2 separate regions of the Homo sapiens genome follow, and region 2 is linked to region 1. The links come from fine-mapping of genetic effects on gene expression. A gene starts in region 1. The other region holds a variant in brackets. All regions are shown on one strand. Distances are between the middles of the regions.

What was found. PIP is the estimated chance that this variant, and not a neighbour inherited with it, causes the effect. A credible set is the group of variants that fine-mapping cannot tell apart.
Region 2: its variant is the best candidate, but not a certain one, in a credible set for the expression of LINC01597 in tibial nerve (GTEx, PIP 0.64).

What each region holds. Positions count from the first base shown.
Region 1 is chr20:30,284,956-30,287,871 of GRCh38, reverse strand. It overlaps LINC01597 (long intergenic non-protein coding RNA 1597), which reads left to right and starts at 1,335. Exons shown (of 2, transcript NR_145432.2): 1 at 1,335-1,432. It overlaps LOC107985433 (putative uncharacterized protein LOC401522), which reads left to right. Exons shown (of 3, transcript NR_171672.1): 3 at 400-844.
Region 2 is chr20:29,725,519-29,728,434 of GRCh38, reverse strand. No RefSeq gene overlaps it. Among named protein-coding and RNA genes, the nearest start is that of FAM242B, 180 kb to the right of the region's middle. The variant AT/T (reference allele first, on the strand shown) is at 1,109.

The sequences.
Region 1 (2,916 bases):
ACACACACACACACAGACACGCATTCAGAAAGCTCTGGGTGCCCTCACATTTGAAAACAACACCTGGTGGAGGACGCTGCGATACCTAATTGGACAAACAGCAATAAAATAAGACCAGTGGAAGTGCTGAGCACAGGGCGCAGGGCTAGGGCCCAGGTTTTGTGTTCAGGCCTGCGGCGAGGCAGCGGCCCTGGGCGATGGGGCGCCGGGCGGTCAGGCACCGGCTGGCGACTCCGCTAGGCCTCCGAAGCCCGGCCTGCAGACCCTTTCTCCCAACCTCTGTGCCTCGTGGGCTCTCTCCGCTCCGACGCCTGGTCGGGGCTTCCCTGTTGAGAGGGTTTTAGGCAGAAGGGCCAAACGACTCAAGCCAGACTCTGCTTTTTCATTTTTCTCCCTTAGGCCTCTCCACTTGCCCGAGCTCTCAGCCACCAGGAGACAGACGGAAGGGGCTTCTGGATTGCGTTGGGAGCGGGCACTGTCCCCTACCCACTCCTGCTCAGTTTCCCAAAGTCCAGCGACTTCCGACCCTCCTTGGGGGGAAAAATACCAGTACCCAGACACCTTTGCACCCTGTTATATGACTGGGCTTGCTTCAGGAATATCTTACAAAGAAGAAGAAGAAGAAAGAACGGCTTGGAGTCATGTTTACATCTAGTTCTACTGATCCGTTCACATCTGGAGAGTTTATTTATAACTCCCTCTATAACTCTCTGTTTGGAGACACTGTGGCTCTATTGACAGACTGATATCTAGGAAATATTGCTCTATGTCTAACCGTACCTAAATGTGCTGTGGTTGTATTTACAGATTTATGTTTGAGGGAAATATAACTATTTCCATTGTATTTGTGCATATACAGTAGTTATAGGAGCAGATTTATATATGGGAAAATATACGACTCTCTTACAGCCATCCAGCTTTATGTACATTTGATATCCTGACAGATTTATATCTCTGAACAGCTATATAGATAAAAACGTATATTGTTAGAATTATGTATCAGAAGATATATACTTATTGATTGTGAAATAGAGTAGTTAGAGCATTCATTTAGAGCCATATATGGCTATGGAGATATTGCTATATTATTATCACTATATATAGGCATATCTATTTATAACTACATAGTTATAAAAATACATATAAGTAATTACAGTCCTATATGTGCATGCTGCAATCTCTCTCTAGAGTTATAGACACTTTCAAATATAACTCTATAGAGAGATCTGTATGCATATAAGGTGTAATTATCTTGTGATGTGTTTACATTGGGACTTAGGCCCGTCTGTCTAGAACACACATATTTATATGTAGGGGCTGGGAGAGACTTGTTCATAGATATCTGCAGAGGGCCAACTGGAAACACTGTATCTGCCCTCTAGGAAACCAGCTAGGAGAGTTGTGTACTTACGGAGGGATGGAGTTACAAAAGGTAAATAGAGCTTAGTGAGCCTTAAGGAGGGGAGGTGAATGGAGGGTGGGTAGGTGGTGGGCTCCCCCAGGCGGAGACGGGGGAAGCAGCAGGGGCTCCCAGCCTCAGGCCTGCCCGGACGGTGTTGGTTGGAGTGAGTCTCCCCAAATGTCGTGCCGCCGTCCGTGATCTCGAGGACCGGTTGGCCTGCGTGCCCCTGGGCTGCTCTTTCACCCGAGGGTCGTTCTGGTTGACAGCAGAACCCCGCAGCCTCAGGGGTTGCCTGGTGGTGTGTGTTTCAATGCCTCTGCTGTATGACCCTTTGTTTGTGTGTGTGTGTGTCTCCCATTCTCCCTTCTCTCTCTGTCTCTCAGTCTCTGTGTGTTTCTTTCCCACTCTCTGTGGGTTTGTGTGTGTGTGCCCGTGTGCTTGTGTGTCTTTGGCTGAATATGCCCTGTGAACCACAGAGCTGTCTCTTGCATGGCGGCCTGTCTTTGTTGAACCTCTTTCTGTGTCTCTGCCTGGGTCATGAGGCCGGTTGTCAATCGTTTTCGCCCCCGCGGATCTGCTTTGGCTGCGTGAAAGCCTGGCCCACGTGAGAAGATGCGTCGGTCTTGGAGCAATTGCTGTCTCGTCCCCATCCTGAGCGTCCTCTTTTCTAGCATCAAGAGGAACACACTGCAGATGAGGACAAGAGCCCCACAGGAGCTCTTTGTCCCACAGGAGATCAGCGGACCCACGTCAGAGAAGATGTTTGAGTCTTTTCGCGGCTCTTCTCTGAGAAATGAAGCCACACCACGATACAGTCAGCAAGAGGAAGCCAGGAATGAGAGATGGCAACAATCCCTGTCCCTGGAACGCTGGCCTCCCTGCACAAGCCACCCTTTAGGAACCCCACCCCTTATGCCTGTGACGGTGGCAAGGTGCTGTATCCTGCCTGGGCTCCGGCCTCTGCTCTGTCCTCCCTCTTGCTCTGCCTCCCCTGTTTCTCAGGGACCTGGATGCCTCTCGCTCTGGCCAAATGCCTTCAACTAAGATGACTTCCCACTCCGTCAGGGAGACACTTCCTGGAGACCCGTGTCGTGATTGTTTGTCTCTCCAAATGTGTTTCTGCTTGATTGGGCAGGTCTCATGGCCCGGGAACACTTGGCTTCCATAGGTGTCTCAGGCAGGTGTCTTCTCCACGTTTCCCCTCATGGGTGGGTGGATTACCTAGAATGAGCGCTAGGCGACCGTGACTGGCCTTGTCTTCCACGACAGGTGGTGTCGCATTTCCTCTGCACTTCCTGTCTCATTCTTGAGGGACATCCTCTCCTCTGCTCCTGGGTGGACTGAACCCCTTGATCTTCTGGCCGAAACGAATGTAAGGGAAACAAAGGGACTGGTCTAGGGCTGGGGGCTGGGGCTGGGGCTCTGTGCAGCCGAAGTTGCGTCAGGGCTGCCAGGGCCTTGGAGGGTTGGGGTTGGGGCGAATTTTGCAGAAACCTCTTTGCTCCTCCGGTAGG
Region 2 (2,916 bases), 560 kb after region 1:
TCTTCACGTAAAAACTAGACAGAGTCAGTCTGAGAATTTCCTTGTGACGTGTCCATTCATCTCACAGAGTTGAACCTTTCTTTTGATTAAGCAGTTTGGAAACAGTCTTTTTGTAGAACCTTCAAAGGGGTATGTGTGAGCCCTTTATGGCATCAGGTGAAATAGGAAATATCTTCACATACAAACTAGAGAGAAGCTATCTGAGTAACTTTTTTGTGATGTGTGCTTTCATCTCAGAGAGCTAAAAATTTGTTTTGATTGATCAGTTGGGAAACAGTCTTTTTGTAGAATCTGCAAATGGCTATTTGGATTGCTTTGAGGCCTATGTTGAGAAATGAAATATCTTCACATAAAAACAAGACAGAAGATTTCTGAGAAACTTCTTTGTTATCTGTGCACTCAACTCACATGTTTGAACCTTTCTTTTGATTGAGCAGTTTGGAAACCGTCTTTTTGTACAATCTACAAAGGGATACTTCTGAATGGTTTGATGTCTATGGTGAAAAAGAAATATCTTCACATAAAAACTAGATCAAAGCATTATGAGAAAGTAATTTATTATGTGTGCATTCATCTCACAGATCTGAAACTTTCTTTTCATGGAGCAGTTTGAAAACTGTGTTTTTGTACAGTCTGCAAAGGGATATTTTTGAGACCTTTGAGGCCTATGGTGATATAGGAAATATCTTCACAAAAAAAGTAGACAGAAGCATTATGAGAAACTTCTTTGTGATGTGTGCTTTCTTCTCACAGATTTCTTTTAATTGAACAGTTTGGAAACTCTTTTTTTTTTAGGTTCTGCAAAAGGATATTTGGAGCACTTTGAGGCCTATGGTGAAAAAGGAAATATCTTCACTTAAAAACTAAACAGAAGCTTTCTGAAAAACTTCTTTGTGATGTGCATATTCATGTCACAGTGTTGAACCCTTGTTTTCATTGAGCAGTTTGGAAACCATCTTTTTGTACAATCTGCAAAGGGATATTTCTGGGCAGTTTGAGGCCTAAGGTGAAAAACAAATATCTTAACATAAAAACTAGACAGAGGCATTCTGAGAAACTTCTTTTTCATGTGTGCATTCTTCTCCCAGAGTTAAACCATTCTTTTTTT[AT/T]TATTATTATTATACTTTAAGTTTTAGGGTACAAGTGCACAATGTGCAGGTTACTTACATATGTATACATGTGCCATGCTGGTGCGCTGCACCCACTAACTCGTCATCTAGCATTAGGTATATCTCCCAATGCTATCCCTCCCCCTCCCCCCACCCCACAACAGCCCCAGAGTGTGATGTTCCCCTTCCTGTTGTCCATGTGTTCTCATTGTTCAATTCCACCTATGAGTGAGAATATGTGGTGTTTAGTTTTTTGTTCTTGCAATAGTTTACTGAGAATGATGATTTCCAATTTCATCCGTGTCCCTACAAAGGACATGCACTCATCATTTTTTATGGCTGCATAGTATTCCATGGTGTATATGTGCCACATTTTCTTAATCCAGTCTATCATTGTTGGACATTTGGGTTGGTTCCAAGTCTTTGCTATTGTGAATAATGCTGCAATAAACATACATGTGCATGTGTCTTTATAGCAGCACGATTTATAGTCCTTTGGGTATATACCCAGTAATGGGATGGCTGGGTCAAATGGTGTTTCTAGTTTTAGATCCCTGAGGAATCACCACACTGACTTCCACAATGGTTGAACTAGTTTACAGTCCCAACAACAGTGTAAAAGTGTTCCTATTTCTCCACATCTTCTCCAGCACCTGTTGTTTCCTGACTTTTTAATGATTGCCATTCTAACTGGTGTGAGATGGTATCTCATTGTGGTTTTGATTTGCATTTCTCTGATGGCCAGTGATGGTGAGCATTTTTTCATGTGTTTTTTGGCTGCATAAATGTCTTCTTTTGAGAAGTGTCTGTTCATGTCCTTTGCCCACTTTTTGATGGGGTTGTTTGTTTTTTTCTTGTAAATTTGTTTGAGTTCATTGTAGATTCTGGATATTAGCCCTTTGTCAGATGAGTAGGCTGCAAAAATTTTCTCCCATTTTGTAGGTTGCCTGTTCACTCTGATGGTAGTTTCTTTTGCTGTGCAGAAACTCTAGTTGAATTAGATCCCATTTGTCAATTTTGTCTTTTGTTGCCATTGCTTTTGGTGTTTTAGACATGAAGTCCTTGCCCATGCCTATGTCCTGAATGGTAATGCCTGGGTTTTCTTCTAGGGTTTTTGTGGTTTTAGGTGTAACATTTAAGTCTTTAATCCATCTTGAATTGATTTTTGTATAAGGTGTAAGGAAGGGATCTAGTTTCAGCTTTCTACATATGGCTAGCCAGTTTTCCCAGCACCATTTATTAAATAGGGAATCCTTTCCCCATTGCTTGTTTTTCTCAGGTTTGTCAAAGATCAGATAGTTGTAGATATGTGGCATTATTTCTGAGGGCTCTGTTCCGTTCCATTTATCTATATCTCTGTTTTGGGACCAGTATCATGTTATTTTGGTTACTGTTGCCTTGTAGTATAGTTTGAAGTCAGGTAGTGTGATGCCTCCAGCTTTGTTCTTTTGGCTTAGGATTGACTTGGCGATGTGGGCTCTTTTTTGGTTCCATATAAACTTTAAAGTAGTTTTTTCCAATTCTGTGAAGAAAGTGATTGATACCTTGATGGGGATGGCATTGAATCTGTAAATTACCTTGGGCAGTATGGCCATTTTCACAATATTGATTCTTCCTACCCATGAGCATGGAATGTTCTTCCATTTGTTTGTATCCTCTTTTATTTCCTTGAGCAGTGGTTTGTAGTTCTCCTTGAAGAGGTCCTTCACATCCCTTGTAAGTTGGATTCCTAGGTATTTTATTCTCTTTGAAGCAATTGTGAATGGGAGGTCACTCATGATTTGGCTCTCTGTCTGTTGTTGGTGTA